Regions from separate parts of the Homo sapiens genome. Here region 2 is reported to be linked to region 1. The links are microRNA targets in miRTarBase. Many come from high-throughput screens and were not tested one by one. Region 1 holds a microRNA gene; the other region holds the end of a gene's coding sequence.

Region 1 (3,120 bases):
GGTGCCGATTAGTTTAGGTGACATCTACACAGAGTGTGGCGTACAGCAGGCTCCCTATAGCAACTGCTACCACGGGAATGACAGTCACCGTTGATCTGGGGCTTATTGTGGGCCAGCCATGGGTTAAGTGCTTTTATAACTCTTACGTAATTTCCCCCCCGAACCCAACTCCAGGAGGCAGATGTATTTATTTTGACTATTTTATAGATGGGAAACTAAAAAGCTCAGAGGGTTTTAACAATACACCCAAAGTTACACAGCTAGTGACTGATGGAGCTAGGGTTTGAACCTGAGCTGTCTGAGTCTAAGCCTTGAGCTTATAACCACCAGACTATGGTAATAATAGTAGCAGTATTAGTAACTCACATGTATTGACCACTTTCTATATGTCAGGCACTGTTCTAAGCAAGCACTTGATACATAGTACTGATGTAATTCCTACAGCAGCCCAGCTCAAAGGCACAGAGAGGTTAATTTTCCTAAAGTCGCCTGGTTAGTAAGGGGTAGAGCTGGGATTTTAACCCATGAAGACTGAAGCCACAGCCTATGCTCTTAGCCATGATGTTAAACCACATATTGTAGTCTTACTGTTATTTTCTAAATCTCGAAAGGGAGCTGAGAATTGGGTATTATTCCATAACTAGATTTTGTGAGGCCACTAGCCGTCTTATGGTGATTGGTGGCCTTTGGGCTTATTAAAACTTCCCTGAACTCTCCCACAGAGCCTCAGTGGAATCTCCATGCTTAGAGTCAGGCGGGCTGAGCCCAGCAGTGCTGCTCGTCCCTAGGGAAGATGTAGTACTTACCATTGCAGGAGCAGCTCCTCTGCAGGTGGTGCCGCGGGGTTAGGATGCTGAGCCTGGCGGTGCTGTACGTGGGCCCAACCTTGGGGTCCAGATGCACTGTGTTATGGCAGATTTGACCCTGGCAGGTTGGCCCCTGGCAGGGCACCATGGGCATAGCTGACCGCATCTGAACCCCCACTGAATGCTCCATCTCCTTGGCTGAGTGAGTGATGATGGATGCTAGCTCCTGAAACTCGTAGAAGGTTCCAGAATGCCCCTCAAAGACCAGGAGCACATCCACACCAGCCACGGCCTCTGCAGGCTGGAGGCTGGCCAAGTGAATGTTAGCCCGTTTGATGTCCAGCTTATGGCTGAGGAACCTCTGCAGGTTCCGCCAGTGGTCACTCACCAGCTCCTCGGGGGTGAGCTGGTAGAAGCCCATCCACATGGCCTGCTGCAGAGCCTCCTGCCCCACATGCCACACGTACACATGGACCCCAGCAGTCGTGGTGAAGGTCCCATCGCTGACCGTGACGTTGAACGAGTAGTGGCCACGAGGCAGGCCCTGGGCGGCGATAATCTTGCCATCAGGCGCACCCACTGAGAAGTGCCTGCCCAGGGTCTCCTCTTCTGCCAGGCTATAGGTCAGCGTGTCCTGGGGGTCTCGGTCTGTGGCATGGATCTTACCCACCATGCCACCCTGGAACTCATCCTCTCCAACAGTGATGAAGATCTCCAGTGGGAGAGCAGAAGGTGCATAGTGGCTCTGCTCTGTGACATGGACACGGACAGACGTCAAAGACGAGAGGGGAGGGATGCCACTGTCTGACGCCTGTGGGCAAAACAAACACTGCTGTCACCCAACAGAACTGCAGTGCTCTTGCGCCCGACTGAGGCTGGGCCTCCTTGTGGAGCTACGTTTCTCTGCCCCACGCCCAACTTGAGGGCTGGCTCAGCGCATTGTTGCATTTAGAAAAAAAAAACCTAACTCCAAAAGCACTGACAGAAAAGAAAGATTTTCTGAAGGTTTTGTAGAGATTGAAGGAGGGAGTTACATCCTATACCATGCAGTAAAACAATGCAGTTTCCTCATGTGACATCTCTCTGAGCCTCTTCCTAAATCTCTCCAGCCATAGACTTGGGCTAACTTCCTCATGAAGTTTCTCATTCTGTCCCTGTCCTCAAGGGCGCCCTCAGATGTCTCAGCAATTCTGATGCACCATGCACCCTGCTCAGCCTACGAAAATTCCCCTTGGGATTCCCTTTTGCTATGCGATTGGAGTGGGAGTCGGGATTTGTCCTTCTAGTCAGTCAACGAAGTCTTCTGCTGTGGCCAGGAGAAAAGAGACAATAAATAAGTTACCAAATAACTTGGATAAAATGCTGGGAAGGAAATAAACAGAGACCTAACTTTGATCAGGTAGAAGAGAAGGAGTCTCTGTGGAGTGACATTTGAGTCCTGAGGGATGAGAAGAAGAGGCGACAGACAGAGGGAGCAGCAAGTGTAAGGTCCTGGGGTAGGAATGAAGGCGGTGTGTTCAACAGCACAGACGGGGTCACTGGTGCTGGAGCAAGTGGGCAGGGAAGCAGGCCTGACCTCACTGATGGGCTGGCACGCGCAGGGTTGCAGTTAATGTCAGAACTGTGAAAAGCCGTGAGGGTGACAGGACCTCACTTAAGTAGGGAAAAGAATGTAAATCATAAACGCATTTTCCTTTCATGTTTCACCACACATCCCTGCAACTTCCTGCCTGACTTAGAAAGGACAGGCTTGCCTTCTTCTCCTCAGTGATGTTATCACTTCCTCAGCTGTCAACGAGGGTCTCCACAATTTTCCCTGTAGTAATATCTTGTTCACCTGCACTCCAACACTTTTAATGTACAAGAAAGTTGATAAGATTACACCTACTGCTGGAAGTCATGCATAACACCGAAGAGATATTAATAGCAACAATAATAATTAACACTACTGTTAATTATAATGTATAGCTAACATTAGTTACAACAATACTACTACTACCGATTATATATAATACATAGCTAACATTAACTGAGTACAATGCTAGTCATTATCATAGATAAACTATGATAATGCTGTAAATACATTATCCTAGTTTATCCTTCTTATGAGATAGGTACTATCAAGTCACCCATCCTACAAAAAATATAACTGAGGCTCAAAGAGGTGAAGTAACTTGCCCAAGGTCATACAGCAGCAGATAAGGCCTGAGCAGAATCTGAATACCTATCTGTGTCTATAGCCTGTGTTTTTCTTTGCTGGCCTATGGTGCCTCCCAGTGCATGGAAGTGGAAGTACGGGACCAATGCAATTGAT
Region 2 (3,120 bases), not on the chromosome of region 1:
AGGAGGCAGAGGTTACAGTGAGCCAGGATTGCACCACTGCACTCCAGCCTAGGTGACAGAGTGAGATTCCGTCTCAAAAAAAAGAAAAAATGTTTAAAAATACAACTAAAAAGTGCTATGAAGGAGAGGTACAGTGTGGAACCTCTCTGTATGGAAATAAGGTCCAAGAAGACTCCCTGAGGAGGTGGCAATTGAGCCACGATCCAAATGATGAGTAGGAGGTCACCAGTGAAGAGGGGAGGGAAGAGGGTAGACTGTAATTTAATTGTGCTTTGAATTTGGCACTCAGACAGATATATGGTACTGAGAAAGAGAGGGGAAGAGAAGCAAGGATAACAAGAGACAGTCAAAAGTTCCAGGGGCCCTTGGAAGAAAGATTCTGAGAACAGAGTGGCCACAGTTATAACTGCCTTTATTTCTCCTGATCACTGTTACATGAAACTTACTGAAATTCATCTCCTCTCCGGTGAACAAACTTCCTTTCTTTATCCATTCATTCACCCATCTACCCATCCTACAGTGAGCCAGGTACTGAGAGCTAGGAGACCCACGAGCCTAGAGTTTACAAAGTAGTAGAAATTCTATTTCTGGCATTTTCTTGCTATTGTTTTGACTCCCTGCTTACCAGGAAAGAGAACAAAAAAGTGACTGTGCTGATCAAAACACAGACCAATAAAACTAAGAAGAAACCAGGGCTGCCGGGTACGATGGCTCACACCTGTAATCCCAGAACTTTGAGAGGCCAAGGCCAGTGGATCACAAGGTCAGGAGTTCAAGGCCAAGATGGTGAAACCAGGTCTCTACTAAAAATACAAAAATTAGCCAGGCATGGTGGGGGCGCCTGTAATCCCAGCTACTTGGGAGGCTGAGGCAGAGAATTGCTTGAACCCGGGAGGCAGAGGTTGCAGTGAGCCAAGATCGTGCCACTGCACTCCAGCCTGGGTAACAGAAGGAGACTCCATCTAAAAAAAAAAAAAAAAAAAAAAAAAAAAAACCAGGGCCTACAGCACACTGATCTCTCTATCCACAATTGCTGAGGAAATGTGAGAAGGAGGAGGAAGGATGGTAACATGTCCAAGAGCTTGTTCCACTCAGAGTTCAGTCATCCCTCACTTAAATAAAACAGACTCTGTATTTGCTGCAAATGTAAATCTGTAAGAAGATGTGCCACACAGGAATACATTTATAGATTTCTTTAATTTATGACATAGAGAATCCATTTTTGGCCGGGTGTGGTGGCTCATGCCTGTAATCCCAGCACTTTGGGAGGCCGAGACGGGTAGTCACCTGAGGACAGGAGTTCGAGACGAGCCTGGCTAACGTGGTGAAACCCTGTCTCTAATAAAAATACAAAAATTAGCCGGGTGTGGTGGCACATGCCTGTAATCCCAGCTACTCAGGAGGCTGAGGCAGGAGAATCAATTGAACCTGGGAGGTGGAGGTTGCAGTGAGCTGAGATCGTACCATTGCACTCCAGCCTAGGCAACTCCAAAAAAAAAAAAAGAGAGAGAGAGTCAATTTCTTCATAACAAAGGCTATTTTCACAGATAGCAGTTGAAGGAGCAATCACTTGGGTGAAGAGGAGGTGACTGGGCCTGTCACCTCCTTTTCACAGACCTTCCTGCAGTGGCCACAGCCATGGGACAGATCATGCCTCCCCTCACACTGGGCATCTGGCCCCAGGGATTGTCCTCCCTTCTTTCTGGCCTTGGCCTGACAGGACCTCTTGACTGGACTCCTGCTGTCATTCTAGATTTGCAGACAGCATCTACCTCCAGGGAAGCAAAGGATTCCTCAAACTGGAGTCTTCAGATTCTCCAAAAGCAAACCGGTTCATGTTTTGAATTCACGTGTTGGCAAAATAGGTGACAGCCTTGTTCCAAAAGGCTAACATTAATTACCTCTAATAGGATCGTGGACAGTATTTTTTTTTAATTTTGTATCTACGCATTTTCTAAATTTCCTTCAATAATCATAGATTACATTGGTAATAAAGAAACATAAACATTTCTTAAGGGTTGCTTAAAATGAGCGTTGCCTGTAAAGTGATCCTTCTCCACCTTAGGTGAAAAATAAGCTCTGCTTTTCCTTCCCTTGCCTCATGCTCCATCCCCTGTCCCCATGTGAAGAGGCTGCCCCACGGCTTCCTCGTCCTTCTTTCTTCATCCACTATCTAGTCCCAGCAGCCGCCCTCTTAGCTGTCAGTCCATCCCCATCTCCTCCAGCTCCTCCATGCTCCAACAGCACTTTAGAGAAGGCAGAGGGCCAGCACGTGGCTTTCTTGCCTTCCCTGAGCAAACAGCCCGAGAGAGAAGCTGGTGTTGATAGAGAGAGGCTCTCTTATTGCAAATTAGATAAGCCCAAATGTAAAAGCATATTCACATTTATCAAACATCTCATAGATGTGGCACCTATGGGATTTCAAAAAACCCTTCATAGATTTTTGCCTCCCAAACCCACACAGCAGCCCCATGAGGTAGACGTCAGTTTCGTTCCCTTCTACGTGTGGGAACTGGAGGAATGTGGCACGGAGAATGCAGAGTTGAGTCCACGGTGAGGCCTCCAGTCCGTCCTTCCCTTGAAGATGCTTGACCCGCAGCCGCGATGGGCAGAACCACCCGCGTGACAGGCAGCAGAATTGACAGGTCGGAACAAGGGAGGCCCCAGGACACAGCAGACACAGCGCTGCGCTGCTGCGAGCCTGGCTATTTCTGACTTGCCCTAGTTAGGGGCTCCTTCCCAGGATCGTTTTATAATCACAAGGTTGTTTGATGTACAATGTGACATCCATAGGACGCTACTGAAAAAAGCCTTGGTTTTTTTCATACTTTTTCTGCCTTGCAGAAAGGTGAGGTGAAGCTTTCAAACAGCCTGTGGTTGTAGCTTTCTTTCTATTATTTATGGCCATGTGTCCTGGCAACAGTTACAACTGCAACTCTGGGCAAAGAATAGGTTGGAAGACTGTTTCAACGTTTTCCATCAGGACAAGATCATACCGACACAGCTGAGGCCTGGGAAAATAAGACAAAATATCCTTGTAAATGAATTTATAAAAATGCAATGGTCTAGTAAATAATATTATATCCTTAAGATACAAAATTATTTAGCAATTGTTTTTAA

The links. The annotated mature microRNA hsa-miR-6499-3p reads AGCAGUGUUUGUUUUGCCCACA and lies in region 1 at 1,619-1,640, opposite strand. An mRNA with a match to its seed (bases 2 to 7 or 8) in the 3' UTR can be bound and repressed. Matches are read on the target gene's strand: a 7mer-m8 pairs with bases 2 to 8, a 7mer-A1 pairs with bases 2 to 7 and ends in A, and an 8mer does both.
Region 2: the mRNA of LIPH is a reported target of hsa-miR-6499-3p. Seed matches in the 3' UTR shown: 7mer-A1 at 1,623-1,629, 7mer-A1 at 1,444-1,450 and 7mer-A1 at 904-910.

What each region holds. Positions count from the first base shown.
Region 1 is chr5:151,520,470-151,523,589 of GRCh38, forward strand. MIR6499 (microRNA 6499) reads right to left here and starts at 1,679; the gene lies at 1,618-1,679. FAT2 (FAT atypical cadherin 2) reads right to left here. Exons shown (of 24, transcript NM_001447.3): 19 at 807-1,617. It also overlaps a transcript of SLC36A1 not described here. RefSeq lists an enhancer at 1,515-1,684.
Region 2 is chr3:185,505,867-185,508,986 of GRCh38, forward strand. LIPH (lipase H) reads right to left here. Exons shown (of 10, transcript NM_139248.3): 10 at 396-3,011. The coding sequence ends at 2,924. Among named protein-coding and RNA genes, the nearest start is that of TMEM41A-DT, 8.3 kb to the left of the region's middle.